Homo sapiens: one gene and its partner. The protein of the gene in region 1 purifies or fractionates together with the protein of each later gene. This does not show direct contact. Each region holds a gene or a part of one and is shown in the gene's direction. Other genes may lie near its edges.

Evidence for each region. The genes of interacting proteins can lie anywhere in the genome.
Region 2: the proteins of ENTPD4 (region 1) and PCYOX1 purify together in Homo sapiens (affinity purification with mass spectrometry; 2 studies listed by BioGRID and IntAct, with this or other methods). This does not show direct contact.

What each region holds. Positions count from the first base shown.
Region 1 is NC_000008.11:23,454,644-23,462,276, reverse strand, and holds the start of ENTPD4 (ectonucleoside triphosphate diphosphohydrolase 4), read left to right. Parts: upstream 1-4,629; 5' UTR 4,630-4,720; intron 4,721-7,633.
Region 2 is NC_000002.12:70,253,905-70,261,146, forward strand, and holds the start of PCYOX1 (prenylcysteine oxidase 1 precursor), read left to right. Parts: upstream 1-4,232; 5' UTR 4,233-4,260; coding exon 4,261-4,372; intron 4,373-5,455; coding exon 5,456-5,662; intron 5,663-7,242. UniProt on the Homo sapiens protein: Prenylcysteine oxidase that cleaves the thioether bond of prenyl-L-cysteines, such as farnesylcysteine and geranylgeranylcysteine. Only active against free prenylcysteines and not prenylcysteine residues within prenylated proteins or peptides.

The sequences.
Region 1 (7,633 bases):
TTGAGGATAAGGATTCAGGTTTCCTGCCTCCCGGCTTGGTACTTTTTACATTAAGTCATCCTGTCTCCCATTTAGTTTTATAACCTTGAGCAAGTCACCCAACCAGTCAACAAATATTTTTAAAGACCTAACAACAAGTAATGGAATATCCAACCAAAAGAAATTTAAACAAATAAAGAGCTTATTTTTCTCTCCTAATAAGAAGTCAGGGGGTAGACACAGTCACTGGTACTAGTTCAGCGGTTTAATGATGCCATCATGGACCCAAACAGTTCTATCTTTCAGTTCCATCGTATTTATTGTTGGCTCTTATCAGGATGACTGTTGTCCCATGGTTGCAAAATGGTCATGTATCTCCAGGTATCACATATTTGTTCAATATTTCATTTAACACTTTTAAAGTCCCATGCACAAAATGAGTTACTTTGATTTTACAACCATGATAGCTGTATTCTTTGTAGATGCTCCATCAAGCTGAGGAAAATCATACCCTTTATAGTTGATAAAGGCTTTTTTTCAAAATTATGAATGGGTGTTGAATTTTGCCAAATTTTTTTTTGCATTGACTGAGATCATACGAATCATATGAATTTTCTTCTTTATTCTGTTTATGTAGTGAATGACATTGATTGATTTTCAAATGTTGAGCCAATTTTGCATTCCTCAAAAAAGAATCCCACCTGGTAATGCTATCTTGCTCTTTCAGATGTCGCTGGATTTGATTTGCCAATTTTGTTTTTGTTTTTGTTTTTTTGAGATGGAGTCTCACTCTGTCACCCAGGCTGGGTGCAGTGGCGCAATCTCAGCTCACTGCAACCTCCACCTCCCAGGTTCAAGCAATTCTCCTGTCTTACCCTCCTGAGTAGCTGGGATTAAAGGTGCCCACCACCTTGCCTGGCTAATTTTTGTATTTTTAGTAGAGATGGGGTTTCACCATGTTGGCCAGGCTGGTCTCAAACTCCTGACCTCAGGTGAGCCACCTGCCTCGGCCTCCCAAAGTGCTGGGATTACAGACATGAGTCATTACACCTGACCTTGATTGGCCAATATTTTGTTAAAATTTTTGCACCTATGTAAGAAATATAGGTGTGTGATTTTCTTTCCTTTTTATTTCTTGGTATCAGGATTATTCTGAATTATAAATTAAAAAGTGTTCTCTCTTCCTTTGTTCTTTCAAAAGAGTTTATATAAAATCAATATTACCTTTCTTAAATGATTGATAAACATTTACTAGTGAAGCCATCTTGCTCTGGAATTTTCTTTTTAGGACCTTAAAGATATGGGGTGATTCAAATGTTCTATTTCTTCCTGTGCCAGTTTTGGGAAGTTGTATTTTTCAAAGACTTTTTCCATTTAATGTAAATTATCGAAATGATCAGCATAAAGTTATTCATAATGTTTTCTTATTATATTTTCAATTTCTGTATATCTGTAGGGATCTTCCTCTTTTATGCTTGATATTTGTTATTCGTGTTTTTTTGTCCTGCTCAATCTCACTAGGAGTTTAGCAATTTTGTTAATATTTTCAAAGAACCAACTTGTAAGTTGGTTAATGTCTCATATTATTTTTTATTATTTTTTTCCTCCTATTCACTTCGAGTTTAATTCACTTTCTTATTCTAATGTCATAAGGTGGAAACTTAGATAATTGATTTCAAACCTTTTTTCTTTACTAAAATAAACTTTTAAAGCTATAAATTTCTCTTGAAGGACTGTTCTGACTGCATTCCACATATTTTGATGCAGTTTCATTATCATTCTGTATGCCGTGTTTTCTAACGTTCTTACAACCATGCCTGGCATAAAGTACTTAGTAAGTGTTCCCTCCTGTTAGCTCCAGTTTTTGTTTTTTTTTTTTTGAGATGGAGTCTTGCTCTGTCGCCCAGGCTGGAGTGCAGTGGTGCGATCACAGCTCACTGCAAGCTCCGCCTCCCGGGTTCACGCCATTCTCCTGCCTCAGCCTCCTGAGTAGCTGGGACTACAGGCGCCTGCCACCACGCCCAGCTAATTTTTTGTATTTTTTTTTAGTAGAGACAGGGTTTCACCGTGTTAGCCAGGATGGTCTCGATCTCCTGACCTCGTGATCCACCCGCCTCGGCCTCCCAAAGTGCTGATATTACAGGCTTGAGCCATCGCGCCCAGCCTAGCTCCAGTTTTTGTTTCTCTTGTTAACAAGTGAGAATGGGCCCCTTCAGAGCCTCTTTGCTGTTTCCACTGACTGAAATACTATTCCTTCATATAGGCCCAGAATTCTAATAAATTCCCATTCATTGTGCAGGTGTGACCTCAGACAGCGTTACCTCAAAGAAGCTCTCCCTGATGAACCAGACCAGGATGGTCCTCTCATGTACTAAGTTGAATAGTGACCACCCCCAAAAAATTCATGTCCACCCAGAACCCATGAATGTGACCTTATTTGGAAATAGGATCTTTGCAAATATAATCAAGTTAATATGAGATCATAAGATCACACTGGATGAGGGTGAGCCTTGAATCTAATATGGCTGGTGTCTTTATGAGAAGAAAGAAACTTGGAGACAGAGACACAGACACACAGAGATAATACCATGTGACAACAGGGGCAGAGACCAAAGTGATGCATCTACAAGCTGAGGAAGGCCAAGGATGGCCAGTAGCCACCAGAAGCTAGGAAGAGGCAAAGAAGGATCCTCCTCTAGATCTTTAGAGAGAGCACAGCCCTGCTGACACCTTCATTTCAGGCTTCTACCATCTAGAACTGGAAGACAATAAATTATCTTGCTTTAAGCCACCCAGTTTAGGGCAATTTGTCACTGCAGCTCTAGAATGTAATATGCCAAGTTACACGTTTCCATACTTTCCTATATTTTTCTTTCCTAGCTCTTATCAGACAATTATTACATATAAATTATCAGGAAATATGGATGGTGTGATAATACTTACTAGTCTGGCTTTTCTTCTCTCTCTCTCTGAGATGGAGTCTCACTCTGTTGCTCAGGCTGGAGTCCATTGGCGTGATCTCGGCTCACTGCAACCTCCACCTCCCGGGTTCAAGCAATTCTCCTGTCTCAGCCTCCTGAGTAGCTGGGATTACAGGCACAAAAAAGCCACTATGTCCAGCTAGTGTTTGTATTTTTAATAGAGATGGGGTTTCACCATGTTGGTCAGGCTGGTCTTGAACTCCTAATTTCAGGCAATCCACCTGCCTTGGACTCCCAAAGTGCTGGGATTACAGGCATGAGCCACCATGCCCGGCCTAGTCTGGCATTTTAGTAGAGCCCTCCTTAAGGAAGACTAACATAACCCCAACCAGTGTCTCCAATGGCAAAGATTTTGAAAGGCAGATAATTTCGAAGGAGACTGTCCTTAAAATCACAGTATGTCAGTGGCCAGCTTTAGCTTCTCAATGCTAGCCTTGGGTCACAGGGTTTTCTAGTGTGAAAATTATCCAAACGAGTAATTTCTTATAGCAACAGATTGTCAAAAAAAAGACACTGATGCGCAAGTCATGTGGGAGTCTGAAACATTGGTTCTGCTCTCCTCTGCCTCCAGGGGGTCTTGGCCAAGTCACTCAACCTCTCTGGGTTCCAGGCTCTTAACTGTAAAAGAAGGTGATTGGGGCTACACAGTAGAGTCCCTTTGGCTCTAACCTTCTGAGGCTTCATGGTTTCTTCCGTTAACAGTAGCTGAATCCAGGAAGAGGAGGTGACCCAGGCGGGTGCTGGACCAAGAAGGATTCTGTGTTAAGATGTAGAACTGCCAGTTCTGTCTATGCTTGTTTTACTTGATAAATGGAATGGAGTAGACGTTTCTAGGGCTCTTGTTTTTAAAAATCTTTTAAAGTGGCTGGATTGCTGGTCACTTCCTATCTCTGGGCCACAGTGCATTCACCTGTATACAAGGTGGAAGAAAGGATGGAACCCGGGATTCCCAAGGTCTCTTCCGGCTCTCAAGTGCAAAGTTCTGTGTCTTCAAAGCAGTTTATTGCTAAGCCAGAGAGCTAAGAGAGCTTAGCCTTGTACTAAGTGTAGGTCATGGGGTCAATCTCAGGAACACCCTTCGCTTTATTTCTTCTCATAACCATTGCGTGTGTTGGGGAGGGCTGGGGCAGTCTGCCTCCCCCAACATAGGCACTAACATATGCCATCGACGGGCAAGAATGAAATCCTGGCTCTACCTCTCACGAATCAGGTGGATCTCAAGAGAGACTGAATAAGTGTGAGCCTCCGTTTCCCCATCTGTGAAACAGGGAGAGTTACCGGCAAAGGTGTAAATGTCAAGAGTTGAGCAACAATGCCTAGTCCTTACCAGGTTTTCAAGCGCTATTTTCCATAACCGTTAGGAGCGCTAAGGAAAGATAAACTGCGGTGTCCTAAGTACGCTGAGGCTCGCTGACGACCAGACGAGCACCACGCCACAGTACTGGGTGCCTCCGTGCTCCCACGTCCACATTTCCCGTGCACAGCACACTGGCGTGGCCGCGCGGGTCCACGGAACAGCCCAGCGCTCGGACGCCAATCATCCCGCATCAGGCTCCGCCCCCCAGCGCTCAACGCGCCCCTCGGCGTGCGCGCTCCCGCCGCCAGCGGGCGCGCTCCGGGCGCAGGCGGTGACGTGTTGCCGGCGGGGGCCGGGCGGGGGTGCGGCTCCAGGAAAGGAGCGCGGCCTCCAGGAAGCCGGCTGGCCGTGATGCTGCCCACTGGTGGTCCCCCGCTCCCGGGGTCCCCGGCCGGCCAAGCAGGTGAGGTTGCCTTCCGAGCGTGGGTGAGGGGAGGGCGGGCGGCCGAAGGGGCCGGCGAGTGGGTTGGAGTGCGGGGGCCGGCGGCGCGGCGAGCGGGCCGCGGACGAGCCTCTCTGCCCCAGGCCCCCACAGCCGCCTGCTTAGCCCCGCGGACCGGTTCCCGCCTCCCCTGCCGCGCGGCCACATCCGAGCGCCCCGGGACCAACCCCTGTGAGCCCTGGCGGCCGGCGCGCTCCCCCAGCCCCTGGCAGGGGACACCTGGCGGTCGCGCGCCTCGGGTGACCGCTCGGGATCCCCCCCTCGAATGGGCGGAGCTTGACCGGGCAGCAGGGATGCTGCACCCGGGACCCAGCCGGCCCTGCCTGCCGCTTTAAATGATGACATTCGCTCGTCTTGTCGTTTTCGCTTTGCTTTGCTTTTGCCAGATTTCATGTTAGATTTCTTCTTGGAAAAATGGAGCTTATTGGGCAGTAAAGTGATGATGCACAGCATTGTTTCTGAACTTGAGTAATGCGCGGACCCCTTTTAAAGGAACAATTCTCTCATGGTCTAGAATGTGTCCCAGAACCCTTAGGGTGCTTCAGACCCCAGTTAGATGAACCCTAGTGCAGAGCGTTTTCAGAGAACACTTATCACGAAGGAAACTAAAGAGATCCTTTATGATTCAGGAACTTTCAGGCTAGAAGGTAAACTAGAGGTAATGGAAGAATTCTAAATTAGACACTCAAAGCCCAGGCTAATTTCGCATTGCAGTCTTTGTTGTCTCCTTTTTGTGATGAAAATACCAAATTATCCAGCTTTAGAGAGGCCTAAAAGAGTTATATTATTTGTGTTACCATATATTTGATGTTTTTGTATCAGGTTTGTTAATTCTGTTTGACATAGTAGAATTATAAAATGGAACACTAATTCGTGTAGTTGAATCGTTTATTTCTCTGTTTACCTTAACAGAGGTCTTGTAGTTGTTGCATGTTGAATCTATGGCTTATATTCTTCTACCTCTAATAGGAAATGTGTGACTGAGGCCCTTGAGGATATAGTCTAGGAAGGAGACAAAAATGAACATTTATCTAAGGATTTATATTCTCTACGTATTTACTCAGCATGTTTATTTAAAATAGACTACTCATGAATAAAGAGACGATTCCAATTGTAAGAAAACATCAGGATGTGTAACAGGTTAAATCTTGACAAAGAAACATGTTGACTTGTGCCTTGAAAGAAGTGTAGTCTTGAGAGGAGGACACGGTGGTGGCTCGGAGGAAGTGCTGTTAGTAAATGCCTGAGGCAGGCATGGAGACAGCTTGTGTGGGAGAGAAGAGAGAGACCTGCTGCACTGGAGCTGAGAGATGGTATCTGGGACTGATGAGAGGATAGGTTGGTGAGATAAGGTGGACCAGTTGATGGATAAAAGGTTTCAGGTGCCACACAGGAAACTTGGTGTTGATCCATGGCCTTCCAGAAGGTTCTTAGCTGATCATATTTTGAAGGCCGTGTTTTACAAAGAGTTGCTTGTAAAGTGTGGCGTGCACAGTGAAGGCAGAAGGTGGGTGAGTCGCCAAGAGATCTGTCTTGAGGTAGTGGTGCCTGCTGTGGTCATCTTAGATATGAGGGATATCTGAGGAAGAATCGACTGGCTTGGAGAATGATAGAAGATTGTCAACACCGGATGTGGGAATCAAAGCTGAGAACCAGGTAATCCAGGTCAATGGGGATTGGTGGTACCCGTCTTAGACCTGGAGAATTTGGAGGGTGGTATTAGAGTTTGCATTAGAAGATTTCAACCCTAGAGTTGGACTAGTTGAGCTTGCAGTAACAGGGCTTCAATGAGCTTGGAACGTGGAACTGGAACTTGAGGAAAGTCAGAGTTAATTCAGGAAAAGTGACCAGAAAAAGACTACTTAAAATGGGAACCAGAATTTTGCAAATTAATAGAGGGAGGAAGAGGTTAAGATTTTATATTGAAAAATAAAATTAAAATGTGTAAGATAAATATTGAACATACAGATCATAAATGCAACTACATACATATCTTCTTAAAGAATGAATCAAGTTGTCTTCATGTATCTTTTGTCACTACTGAGTAACGGTGCCACCCGGCAGCCTCCACATCAGCCTCTCACTCTCAGAAAGACAGTTGTTTCTTGCAAAACGCTGCCGGAATGGTTGAGAGCATCTTTAATTTTTCCAGGTTCTCTTGAATCCTTTGATATTCAAATCATTCTTTTCTGAAGTACCCTTCCCTGTGGTACCTTTGCTTATTCAGAAGCTGAGCTCTCCCAGAGGCTGACTTCTCTGTGATTTTGTTTGCCTGTGATTTGAGTTCACTAACATCTGTTTCCTTGCATCTTGTGTTTTTCCACCAGAGGAACCATTTCCCTTTGTGGTTGATTTGCATTGTTTTCGTCGTTATCTGTAGAACTGTCAGTGAGAGACTGACAAAGACATTGACACCTGACTGTAGGCTTTATTCCAATAATGTTCAGCCAAGTAGGGCCCCACTAGCTGAAATCATGAGAATTAATGCATCTCTCTGGTGATAGGTCTAACACAATTTAGGCTTTTTTAAAACATGTCAGTTTTATGTGGTATTACTGAATTTGCCTCCCAGTGCCCTGGTGCGAAGATTCTTAGCTAGAAGGACAATTGGAGTTTACATTTGAAGATCAAATTACCATTTAACTCTTAGGCAATAATCCATTGTACTTTTGTCCTGAGTTAAAATTACAGTGCTTCAGCAGTTATAAGCTGTCCTATTTTCTCTGCTTTTAAACACAAGCTTTGTAACTTAAAATATCTGTTTGTCCTTTTGATCAAAATCATCACATATCTCAAAAAAAAAAAATTCCTGAGACAAACCTCAGATGACACAAAGTTTCCTAAGTGCGCTGTGATCATTCTCTCGGTCACCTT
Region 2 (7,242 bases), on another chromosome or scaffold:
TGATTTTATTTCCAGTTTTCATCCGAATCCACTGGGGAATGGGACGATTTTGCTTTTGTTTCTTGGGCAGGAATCACTTAATCCTGAAAGTCTTGTGAGAAGACATGGTGAGGGTGGAGTCAAGAACACACCACGATGGCAGAGAAAGGAAAAGAGGCATGAGATCATTTTATACCCATCATGCAACCACAAGCTTTTCTCAACTGATAATACTAGGACATTAGTTATAGACCCATTTTTTTTTTTTTTGAGACGGAGTCTCACTCTGTCGCCCAGGTTGGAGTGCAGTGGCGTAATCTTGGCTCACTGCAGCCTCTGCCTCCTGGGTTCAAGCAATTGTCCTGTCTCAGCGTTCCTGAGTAGCTGGGATTACAGGTGTGCGCTACCACGCCTGGCTGATTTTTATATTTTTAGTAGTAGAGACAGGGTTTCACCATGTTGACCAGCCTGGTCTCAAATTCCTGACCTCAGGTGATCTGCCTGCTTCAGCCTCCCAAAGTGCTGGGATTACAGGTGTGAGCCACTGCGCCAAGCTCCAACATTCTTTTTTTGTAATTTTTTTTTTTTTTGAGATCAGCCTGTCAGGTTGGAGTGCAGTGGTGCAATCTCAGCTCACTGCAACCTTGGCCTCCCAAGTTCAAGTGATTCTCCTGCCTCAACCTCCCAAGTAGGTGGGATTACAGGCATGCATCACCACGCCCAGCTAATTTTTGTATTCTTAGTAGAGGCAGAGTTTTGCCACGTTGGCCAGGCTGGTCTTGAACTCCTGACCTCAGATATTCTGCCTGCCTTGGTCTCCCAGAGTGCTGGGATTACAGGCGTGAGCCACCGTGCCTGGCTTCCTTTTAATGCATGCATAATGTTCTATTGTATGGTATGTTGGGGAGAAAAAAAGAGTTTTCCTCTACCCTTCCGAGGTTTTGGTTGTGATAGACCCCTGTAACAAAAGACAGATTAACAAGAAGAAAACAAACAGGACCAGGCATGGTGGCTCATGCCTGTAATCCCAACACTTTGGGAGCCCAGGAGTTCCAGACCAGCCTGGGCAATATGGCAAAAAACCATCTCTACAAAAAATGTAAAAATTAGCTGGGCATGGTAGTGGATGCCTGTGGTCCCAGGTACTCTACTCTGGTGGCTGAGGTGGGTGGATCGCTTGAGCCCAGGAGCGAGAGGTTGCAGTGAGCCGTGATAGTGCCATTGCACTTCAGCCTGGGTGACAGAGCGAAGCCATCTCAAAATAAATAAAAGAAAGAAAGAAAAAAAGAAAAACAGAAATTTAAAAACATGTACGTCACGTATTCAAAAGAGAGACCAGGGAAATGAGCAAATCTCCAAGAGGTAGCTTTGAATTCAGGATTATACAGCATCTTCAAAAAAGAACAGTATATGTTTAGAGAAGTGTTAAGAGAACCGGGCACAGTGACTCACGCCTGTAATTCCAGCACTTTGGGAGGCCGAGGTGGGCGGATCACCTGAGGTCGGGAGTTCGAGACCAGCCTAACCAACACGGAGAAACCCCATCTCTACTAAAAATACAAAATTAGCTGGGTGTGGTGGCGCTTCCCTATAATCCCAGCTACTCAGGAGGCTGAGGCAGGAGAATTGCTTGAACCCGAGAGGCGGACGTTGCCGTGAGACTGCGCCATTGCACTCCAGCCTGGGCAACAAGAGCGAAACTTCGTCTCAAAAAAAAAAAAAAAAAGAAAGAAAGAAAAAAAAAGAGAAGTGTTAAGAGAAGGAAAATGATTTTGAGTCTCTAGGGGTGGCAAATTATGGGAAGGCAAATACGCGATAGAAAAAGGCTCATTAATGAAGTTTGTCATGTAGATTCCTGGCTGATAAAGGTTTGTCAAAAGACAAAATTACAACTAATTTAGTTTAAAGAGCATAATTGGCTTTTAGTTGCGATTGTAGAATTGTGCAACACCTCATTTTATAAAATCGAATGAGTGTTCCTATGAGTTGAGTGGAGGAGGTTGGCTTTCAGAAAGGGCTGAAGAAAGCAGAAACAGAAAAGTGCATTGGTTGTTTCGAGGTTACTTTCCTTGAAAAGTTTAAAGCAGAGGGTATTTCCTTATCATGTCACTTCAAACTGGTCTGTCGGGAATTTGGCTATTATTTTTCTTTCTCCTGATTTCTTAGAAAGTCAGATCGACAACTTAGTTTTGACCTTGTGATGTGGAACATGAGTGACTTGAGTGACTCCATTTTGGTTTAGTCTGTTGGGCCTAGTCTAGTGCAGGAGCTCAGTCCAAACCAATGGCTTCCTATGAATTTTATTTAACAGGCGTAAAATTGTCTTTAGTGATTAACCTTTGTCCTTCCAGGCAGTGTGGGAAGAGGGATACCTTTGCCTTTTAAAATTTATGTCCTGCTTTACTTCAGACATTACACTAAATAGGAGTGTTGAGTATAAAAATGAATTCACAATTAAAGTTGTTAAATTATTTGTATATAACTTTAAAAGGAGTTTTTTTGAAGCTTTGTAATTACATTGAAAGTATATTTGTTTCCTTGAAAACAATTTTTTGAAAAGTGAATAATAATATAATACAGCTTTCAAATTACTTTATGCTGTTACTTTATTTCTATTGTATTCACATGTGAAAGTATGTGATCAGTTGTTGCTGTATCAGAGATATTAGAGATTCTTTATTAGTTGGGCATTCTTTATGACCTTTTCTATAAAAGAGTAAGGACATTAAAATGTAAGATGCATGATAAAAATATAAGTAGCGAGGCTCATTGTAGTTAGCCTAAATTAAGTAATGTTTAAGGTAGGTGTTCATGGCCAGGCGCGGTGGCTCACACCTGTAATCCCAGCACTTTGTGAGGCCGAGGCGGGTGGATCATGAGGTCAGGAGATCGAGACCATCCTGGCTGACACACTGAAACCTCGTCTCTACTAAAAATACACAAAATTAGCCAGGCACGGTGGCGGGTGCCTGTAGTCCCAGCTACAGGCTGAGGCAGAAGAATTGCTTGAACCCGGGACGTAGAGTTTGCAGTGAGCTGAGATCGCACCACTGCACTCCAGACTGGGCAACAGAGCGAGACTCCGTCTCAAAAAAAAAAAAAAAAAGTAAGTGTTCAGAGTAATACTTTTCTACATTATACTGAGAGAAATTATAAATTATAAAGTATATCAAATTATATTATTTTACTAATTTTACTTTTATGTAATAAAATGCAATATATTTAAAAATTGTTAAAAAAATAAAATTTATGTCCTGCTTTTAGGCAAATGGGGAAGGCGGAGAACTTTCCACCCACGTATCTACATCGTATCTACATCTTCTCAATTGTCTTCGGCTTGAAATAATCCTTAGGCTAAAGAGGCGTATTTTGGGGTGGCACATTCTGGTGTCCTTACAGGTACACTACTTTTATTCATGTCTGTTACTACTATTACACCCCCTTCACCTTGGGCCACCCCATCCTCAGTCTCCCTCATTTTTCTTTACAGTTAGCACCATTTACCCATTCACGGAGAACCTTACAGTTCTCGCAACAGGGTGATCACTCAGTAAGTACTGTTGTCCCTTTGGTCTGTTTCTGGCAGCGATTAGCTGTGCGCATTCTTTGAGAGGAGCGACGGAGGGAACAGAAGAGGGTACTAGTGAAGAACTAAGGTGCTTCACCCAAATAGATAGGGAAGGAGGAGGAGAGCTGAGGCGAGCCTCAGCTTCTGCCTTTTTTTTTTTTTTTTTTTTTTTGAGACGGAGTCTGGCTCTGTCTCCCAGGCTGGAGTGCAGTGGCGCAATCTCGGCTCACTGCAAGCTCCGCCTCCCGGGTTCACGCCATTCTCCTGCCTCAGCCTCCCGAGTAGCTGGGACTACAGGCGCCCGCCACTATGCCGAGCTAAATTTTTGTATTTTTAGTAGAGACGGGGTTTCACCGTGTTAGCCAGGATGGTCTCGATCTCCTGACCTCATGATCCACCCACCTCGGCCTCCCAAAGTGCTGGGATTACAGGCTTGAGCCACCGCGCCCGGCCAGCTTCTGCCTTCGATGTCTTCTGAAGGAGGGTGGGCTTCGAGGCGGCAGGATGTGCTTAGGGCACTGAGTGGCCCAGAGTGGGGAGCTCCTGCAGGGTTGAGAGGACCGGCGGGGCGAGGTCGGGGCGGGGCTCGCAGGACCTGGGCGGGGCTCGCAGGGGCTGGGCGGCCTGGGGGCGGGGCTGGGCGGAGCGCGCAGCCGCGCAGCGGTGGGAGGACTGCGGGGCTCTTGAGGCCAGCTGCAGAGCTTGTGGAGGCCATGGGGCGCGTCGTCGCGGAGCTCGTCTCCTCGCTGCTGGGGTTGTGGCTGTTGCTGTGCAGCTGCGGATGCCCCGAGGGCGCCGAGCTGCGTGCTCCGCCAGATAAAATCGGTAGGCGAGAAGGGGGCGGCGCGGGAAGGTGCTGGAGCGCGCCCCGCGCCGGGCGGCCGCTGCGCAGTGCGCCCAGATCCCACAGCCGCGACGCAGTCCAGCGGTGCAGGCCGAGCCAGCTGCGCAGGTCGCGCTTTCCCCCATTCACACTTCAGGGCGGCTTTCAGCTCTGGTCGGAATAGGACTGTGCATTCCCAGGCGTGGAGAGGTGCCCACTTGAGGAATGGGCGTGGACGGGGACAGGGGCGGGCGGGCAGGCAGGCGCCTAGCGTACCTGTAGCCCCTGTCTCTTAGGTGTGGGGCTCCGGGGAGGCCTAGGTTTCTCTATCTTCCCGTTGAACACTGACCGTGAAGACTCCAGTGTTCTGGCTTGACCTGGGGCGCCCGGCCAGATTAACAGGCTCACGCAGGCACAGCACAGGGAGGAGTGCAAACAAGTTGACCCTGCCTGCTTCCCTTGGGAGGCTGAACCGCCTTCCCCCAGCTCCGCTTTGCTGAGGTCGGCCTGCTCTCAGAGGCCCTTGGCTTGCACAGTTTCTCCGCCTAGGACTAACACAGCTGCAGAAAGAATCTGTTCTCTTTCCACTGTCAAGAGCTCCAGTGTCAGGAGCCTTGGCTCTTTGCTTCCTGTCTCCCTCCCGCCCCCCTTTAAAGTTGTGTTCTTCGGTATCATTAACCTATCTACATTGAATCTAGACACAACAAAGCTAGGCATAAATGGCCGTCACTTTATTAAAAATGCGTGCTGGAAAGGTCCACCTCTAATGTGCCCGTGAGTTGGGCATCTGGAAGGGTGTGCAGGCCCCTTGGTTCCTCCATAAAGACCTGTGAGAATCTTTGGGCATCTGGAAAAAAAATCGAGTTAATGTCAATATGTTAATTAATCTACTGCTTTTGTCTGGGAACAGTGTCTGTCCAGATTCAGGGAGTTAGACCTTCGCTGCAGGTGTCACTCTTCCCCCACCAAATTGTTGGTAATAGCTTTGAGTAACAACCTCTGCTATTGATGGTCTTTCAAAAACAAAACAACTCACAGAGCTGGTAAAAGGGGAAAATATAATCTTCTGTTTTTTTCCCTCATAGCGATTATTGGAGCCGGAATTGGTGGCACTTCAGCAGCCTATTACCTGCGGCAGAAATTTGGGAAAGATGTGAAGATAGACCTGTTTGAAAGAGAAGAGGTCGGGGGCCGCCTGGCTACCATGATGGTGCAGGGGCAAGAATACGAGGCAGGAGGTTCTGTCATCCATCCTTTAAATCTGCACATGAAACGTTTTGTCAAAGACCTGGGTATGTAATTTTGGTCTTGGAGCTCACCAGATTACTGTGTGACATCCCCGGATATTTTTATCAGATGGAGAACTGAAATTTCTGCCTTGTTAATTGCCTTACAGAGACGTTGGTAAAACTGTTTTCCTCACTTTCTTGTTAGTTGGTACTGCCTGAGTTAGGAGCAGTTCTGCTGTAATGGGACACTAGTTGTCTGTATCTTCAGTTATCTGGAATTACAGCCATGGGGTGGGGGTGGGAATGGCTGCCATTGTCTTTTTTTTTCTTTTGAGGAGTTTCGCTCTTGTCGCTCAGGCTGGAGTGCAATGGTGCGATCTTGGCTCACTGCAACCTCTGCCTCCCGGGTTCAAGCGATTCTCCTGCCTTAGCCTCCTGAGTAGCTGGGATTACAGGTGCCTGCCACCACGCCCAGCTAATTTTTGTATTTTCAGTAGTGACGGGGTTTCACCATGTTGGCCAGCTGGTCTTGAACTCCTGACCTCAGGTGATCCGCCTGCCTTGGCCTTCCAAAGTGCTGGGATTACAGGGGTGAGCCACCGTGCCCGGCCTCTGTTGTCTGTTCTTAAAATTCTGGGTTTGTGTTAAAGAATCAGAGAAGGTTTGGAGATAGTCATCTCATTGTGATCATTTTGCAGCTGAGTAAATGAGACCCAGAGACTTGAATTGTCTGGCTCAAAGTCACTCACATATGGCCATGGCCAGGGTCAGTGGCTCATGCCTGTAATCCCAGCACTTTGGGAGGCCGAGGCAGAGGATCACTTGAGCCCAGGAGTTAGAAACCAGTCTGGGCAACATAGTGAGATCCTGTCTTTACTAAAAATAAAAAAGTTAGCCTGGTGTGATGGCACAAACCTGTAGTCCCAGCTTCTTGGGAGGCAGAGGCAGGAGGATCCCTTGAGCCTGGGAGATAGAAGCTGCAGTGAGCCTTGCATGCCACTGCACTCCAGCCTGGGCAACAAAGTGAGACCCTATCAAAACAAACCACCACCAACAAAACAAACTCCGTCACACAGCTGTGGATGCAGACACGTGCCTAGAACTTGGGATGTGCAACTGCTGCCCTGACAGCAGAGGAGCTGGATAGGTCATGGGGAAAGTCTGACAGGCCTCTGGAGGCCCTTTCGGCAGGGAGTATTTTGTAACTTTGGCCTCCTTCCAGTTATCTGAAATATCCAGTTTTGCAAAATAGGATTCTCACAGGAATGGAAGTGCCTCAGCTGCCTTCCACATCCTCTGTAGATGCTGCCTCTGCTTCCGTTTCCTCCACGAGGGCGAAGGTATACCCAGAACAAATTATGCCACGAAGATGCATGTCTGACATCTTTGTTTTTAAATTGAATTCAGTTGGTACTCTGGCTTTTTTCCTTTGACTATCCAGTTTTTTTAGACTTTTAGTCTAAAAATAGCCAGGTAAAAATATATCTACTTTTGATATATTAATATTTACATGATCATCTGACCCATCGCCTAGCAAATCTGCTTTTGGACAGTGTAGTGAAAGTATAGTGTTTCACACTGTTCCAAAGATAGAGCTCCTTTATGTGTCTCCTGAGAACTGAGGGAAGCCCCAAATTCACTCA